2 separate regions of the Homo sapiens genome follow, and region 1 is linked to region 2. Evidence: fine-mapped expression QTL. A gene starts in region 2. The other region holds a variant in brackets. All regions are shown on one strand. Distances are between the middles of the regions.

What was found. PIP is the estimated chance that this variant, and not a neighbour inherited with it, causes the effect.
Region 1: its variant is the best candidate, but not a certain one, in a credible set for the expression of COCH in whole blood (INTERVAL, PIP 0.63).

What each region holds. Positions count from the first base shown.
Region 1 is chr14:30,846,278-30,849,090 of GRCh38, reverse strand. No RefSeq gene overlaps it. Among named protein-coding and RNA genes, the nearest start is that of COCH, 27 kb to the left of the region's middle. The variant G/AG (reference allele first, on the strand shown) is at 1,497.
Region 2 is chr14:30,873,269-30,876,081 of GRCh38, reverse strand. COCH (cochlin) reads right to left here and starts at 1,523. Exons shown (of 12, transcript NM_004086.3): 1 at 1,491-1,523; 2 at 1,110-1,166; 3 at 979-1,026. The coding sequence starts at 1,143. RefSeq lists a silencer at 1,442-1,961.

The DNA of each region.
Region 1 (2,813 bases), 27 kb after region 2:
GGTAAAAGAAGAAGCAAAAAACAAATTGTCTCTGGGGGAAATCTTCAACAATTTAGTTTGCAGATTAAGCAATCATTTCACAATCAAAGTTCACCATGCACATTGCAATGCAAGCCAAGCTGAGTGAGATCAATAGAAAAAAAAAAAACAGATTTAGACCCTTCCCCATAGACTTCAGTTATTAGAGTTGTCAGTTGCACAATATAGGGAAGCTATGTTAAAAATATTTAAAGGGGAGGGTGTGGTGGATCATGCCTGTAATCTCTTTTGGAGATGGAGGCAAGAGGATCGCTGGAGGCTGGGAATTTGAGACCACACTAGATAACATATTGAGAGCCCCATCTCTACAAAAAATAAGAAAAAAGTAGCCAGGTATGGTGGGGCACGCCTGTTGCCCTACCTACCTGGGAGGCTGAAGCAAGAGGCTCTCTTGAGCCCAGGAGTTGGAGATTGCAGCGAGCTATGATCTCACCACTGCACTCTAGTCTGGGCAACAGAGTGAGACTCTGTCTCTAAGAAAAAAAAAAACTTAAAGAAATAATGGACACAATCAAAAAGATAAGTAAGTAACAAAAAAACCAGCAGGAATAAATAGGTAGACTTGGAAATAAAAGGGAATTTCTGAAAATGTAAAATACAATTGTTAAAAATTTAAGGACTCAATGAATGGGTTTGACAGCAGATTTAATACAGCCATAATCACTCCAGGAAAGGCAGAAAAGGAATTGGAAAACATAAAAAAGTAGATATGTGAGGAAATCTAATATATATTTAACCGAGTCCCAAAAAGTGAGACTAGAGAGAAAATTGTAGGCAATATTTAAAGAGATATGGGCTTTAAATTTTCCAGAACTAATCTATTCCATAGATCCTAGGAAAAACCTGTTTTGAAAAAAAAGGAGAGCTGTTGTAAAATATGCAGACTATAGTTAATAACAATGCATTATATTCTTGAAAATTGCTAAGTATAGATTTGAAGTGTTCTCATCACAAAGCAATGATATGTATGTGAGGTAATATATATATTAATTAGCTCGATTTAGCTATTCCACAATGTGTACCTATTTCAAAGCATGCTGTACATGATAAATATATACAATTTTTATTTCTCAATTAAAACAAATAAATAAAAATTTAGAAAAAATAAATAGAAAGCCTGAATTGTCCTAAGACTATTTAAAAAAAATCAAACTATCAGTGATGTTTTCCCACTAAGAAAACTCTATGTCTTGGATGTTTTACAGGTAGTTCTACCAAATTTCTAAGGAGCATATTATTCCAAATGTAATAATTCTTTGAGAGGATAGAAAACTCATTCTATGAGGTCACTGCTACCTTGATACCAAATCCAGGCAACGTCAGTATGAAAATGGGTTATTACAGTCACTCTTTCTCATTAACACATACACAGACTGAATCTATCAGTTGATAATGAACACCCAAAGGTCTCTAATACAAAATTTCAATGAAATGGCTAAAGATAAGTAAAAAAAAAA[G/AG]GGAATAAAATTTACTAGCATTAAAATCAGGAAACACTGCCAGGTATATTCTGTGTACTTCTCCCTATATGAAGAGGGCACCTTCCACCATAAGGGGAGGGCAAGTATATAGTTACAATTTTTTGCAGTGTTCTGTTTCTTATATTGTCAAGGATACAGAGTGTTGTTCTTTGTCTTATTTTACTTAAAACTTACATATACATTACATATATTCTTTTGATTATATCAAGAATTATATATACATGTGTATACATGTGTGTACATATTTGGGTATGTGATATATATTTTTCTTCAATGGAAAGGGGATGGCATAAAAACAAGCTTGTAATGGAACAAAATGGCCAAAGAGAAGTAATTAGGACAAAACTGCATTGACACTGAAACTAGGAAATCATGCTAAGCATAAGCCATGCATTTTTGGAAATATCAGCCAGATAAAATGCAATTTGAAAAAGATTAATGAAACCAAAAGTTGGTTTTTTGAAAAGATAAAAGTGACAAACCTTTAGCCAGACTAATTAAGCAAAGAAGAGAGAAGACCCAAATAAATAAACAGATGAAAAAGGAGACATTACAACTGATACCACAGCAATTCGAAAGATCATTACAGGTTATTTTGAGCAACTATGTGCCAAAAATTGAAAAACCTAGAAGAAATTGATAAACTCCTAGGCACATACAGCCTACTAAGATTCAACTATAGAGAAATTCAAAACCTGAGCAGACCAATAACAAGCGATGAGATTAAAGCCGCAATAAAAAATCTCGCCGTAAAGAAAAGTCCAGGACCTGATGAATTCACTGCTGAATTCTACCAAACATGTAAAGAAAAACTAATACCAGTCCTACTCAAACTATTCCAAAAAACAAAGAAGGAGGGAATACTTTCAAACTCATTCTTCAAGGTCAGTGTTACCCAGTACCGAAACCAGACAAAGACACAACAAAAAAAGAAAACTGCAGACCAGTATCTCTTATGAACATTGATGCAAAAATCCTCAACAAAATGCTAGCAAACAGAATTTGACAACACATTAAAAAGATCATTTATCATCAACAAGTGTGATGCATCCCAGGGTGTAAGGATGGTTCGATATAGTCAAATCAATGTGATCCATCATATCAACAAAATGAAGGACAAAAACCACATGATCATTTCAACTGATGCTGAAAAAGCATTTGATAAAATTCAACATCCATTCATGATAAAACCCTTAAAAAAATACTGGGGCTAGAAATATACCTCAATGTAATAAACATCATATATGACAGAGTCACAGCTGGTATCACACTGAATGGGGAAAAACTAAAAGCCTT
Region 2 (2,813 bases):
GTACCTTGCCTGTGACAAGCACCCTCCTCTGTGCCCTTTGTGGTGACAGGTACCTTACATTCCATGGAAGAGAAGGAAGGATGCAGGCGCAATGCCCATTTCTTAGCTCTGAAGCAGTCTAGAGAGCTGAGAGGTTAAAATCCTTACCCCTAAACAGCCTCATACCTATCATCAAACAGCCTTAATCCTTCCTCCCATTTTCCGCTGAGATGGGGGCGGCATCGGAATCCGGTGCCAAGACCGACCGCCTTTAGTTGCGAACACTGACTTTTGTTAAGTAGAGCGGGAGAAATACAGCCATGAGGGATACTTAACCCTCATTCCTACTTTCAAGGAAAACAAACGGTAGCTCTTAGGAAAGCGTTGCCTTTTACACTGGAAAATACACCAAACCACACACCCATACCCGGACCTCTACACGTGGTACAAACTTTTTAAACTCTCTAGCGTGTAGAGTGAGACCGCGAGTGCTTCTGATTATAGGGGTTACACCTAGAAACATAGCTAGCGAGTCAAACAAGGTGGGACAGCGACGTTCGCCTCCCTCTCTCTCGGCTACGGCAACCTGAAGTCGGGTCTGGGCGGCTTCTCCTCCACCCCCAAACGCAGCAGAGCCCAGGACTGGTGCGCTCCTCGGTGAGGCTCAAGGAGTCCTCCTTCCTCGACCTCCTGCTGCCGGCGCTCAGCGGGCCCGGGGTCTGGGGCTGTGGGTGGGCCTGGAGGAGGCCTTCTTCCTAGTGCTCTTGGAGAACGTCCCCCCACTGGACCCCAGGGGCCCCCTACCATGGGAGAAACAGGTGAGCAGGAGCAGATCGGCTGCAGGGGTTAACGCGGGCGCGCCACGCGGCGGCTCAACCTTCGCGCCTTCCTCCTCAGGCGGTAGGGCTGAAGCCCAAGGGGCTGGATCTGAGTCCCGCTTGTACCCGCTGGTGCTCAGCCCCTGCGACCGCCTGGACGCACCCCAGCTCCCCCACTCACCGGCTCCCTCGCTGCCCGCGGGCCCCGGCAGCAGCAGCAGACACACACCTGCGAAGAGAGAAGCGTGAGGGCTGGCTCCAGCCTCCACCCAGCGGAGCAAGGGGCCGGGGTCGTGAGGGGCGCGCACCCACCGAGGCCGAGAGCCGGGATCCAGGCTGCGGACATGGTGACTGATAGGCTGCTCACACCTGGGAGAGAGGGAGAATGCGGGCAAGGCCAGGGTGCGGGAGGCCCCGCGCGTCACCTCCTCAGAGCCCCGCACCCTTCGGATCCCCGGGCGCGGCGCAGAGGAGAGAGGACACAGACGACCCGCTGCTCCAGGCCAGCGCCCCTCTAGGTCTGGGAGGCGCCTCGGCGGCAAATCGAGCGAAGCCCAGGATCGGTGTGCAACCCCGCACCGCGGGGAGGCGGGGGCGCCAAAACGACGACAGACAGGCTGGGAGCGACAAAGAAACAGGGACAGAGGCGTCAGGGATCCCTCGCACCCGCGCCCGCCGCCCGGGGCTCCGCACCTGCTCGAGATCCACCCGGCTGCGCCCGAGTGCGGAAGGCAAGGCCCCCGCGGCCGCTATAAAGGCTGGGCCGTGCGCATGAGCACTGTGCGGGGGGCGCGGGAGGAAGCGCGGGAGCCGGTCCCCCGGGGCCCGGCGGCGACTTCCAGCTCCGCCTTCGCCCCCTGCCGGCCCCGGGGTGAGGCCGGCGCGGAGGCGCCTCCTCCAGCAGCGCAGGCTCGGCCACCTGGACGCGGCGCCAGTCCCTAGAGGGGCACGAAGGTCCCCGTGCCGGCGTCTCAACGAGTGTGGAGGGCCGGCGGCCCCGACGGCGGCAGCAGCGGCCTCGCCAGCCCTGCTCTGCCGGGACCAGGGCTGCTGAGGCAGCGGCGGCCGCTACCCGCCCCACCCAGCGAGGCCTGGAGCTTCTGAGAGCTGTCAGGTCCACGCGGCCTGAGAACCGAACTTCTCAACTTGGTGCTCTCGTGGAAAGAGTTCCTACTTCTGAAATAAAACCACCCTAGGTTTGGTAAACGCATGCCGCGTTTTTGTTAGAAACCCTGTCAACTGACTGCTAGCTCGTTGGACCTTAGGGATTCGGCCTTGCGCCTTCGTTTCTGCTGGAGTCCTACTTTCCCCAGTGGTTCAATTTGTGCTCCTGCCTAGAGCCACGCGTGTGAGACAGCCCTGACCCCAGCAGCCGGTACCTTTGCTTCTTTCTCACCTCAGGAAGAATTTATGCCTGATTGCCTTTCGAAATTCCCAGACTTGGTGTCTTGTGACTGCACAGAATCTCAGATTTGATAATGTGTTCTCCTTCTCCCCGCACCATCCTGCTAACGTTTTACAAATGGAAATGGAGAAGGAGCAGAATTCTTGAGGAGTGTTAGTGACAGGCGACCTGCATGGCAGCGGAAGAACCAGACCCAGGCCCAGACGCTAACCTTTCTGGTACAATATAAACTTTTTCAAATAGCCTTATTTAGTTACAATTTACATGCCATAAAATCCATCCGTTTTGAGTGTACAGTTCAATGATGTTTAGTAAATTTTCAGAGCTGTACAACCATCACCACAAGCCAATTTCAGAACAGGTTCATCCTCCCCAAAATGATCTCCTCGCCATTGTCAGTCAGTCTCTTCTCCCACTCCTAGTCCTAGGCAATCACTAACCTATTTCCTGTCTCTATAGATTTTTCTTAGTGGTCGTTTCTTATAGATGGGATTATACATTGTGCGGCTTCCTTCACTGCACAGAATGTTTTTGAGGTTCATCCATGAGGCATTATAGAACAGTACTTCCTTTCTTTTTATTGTTGAAAAGTATTCCCATGCCATTTTATA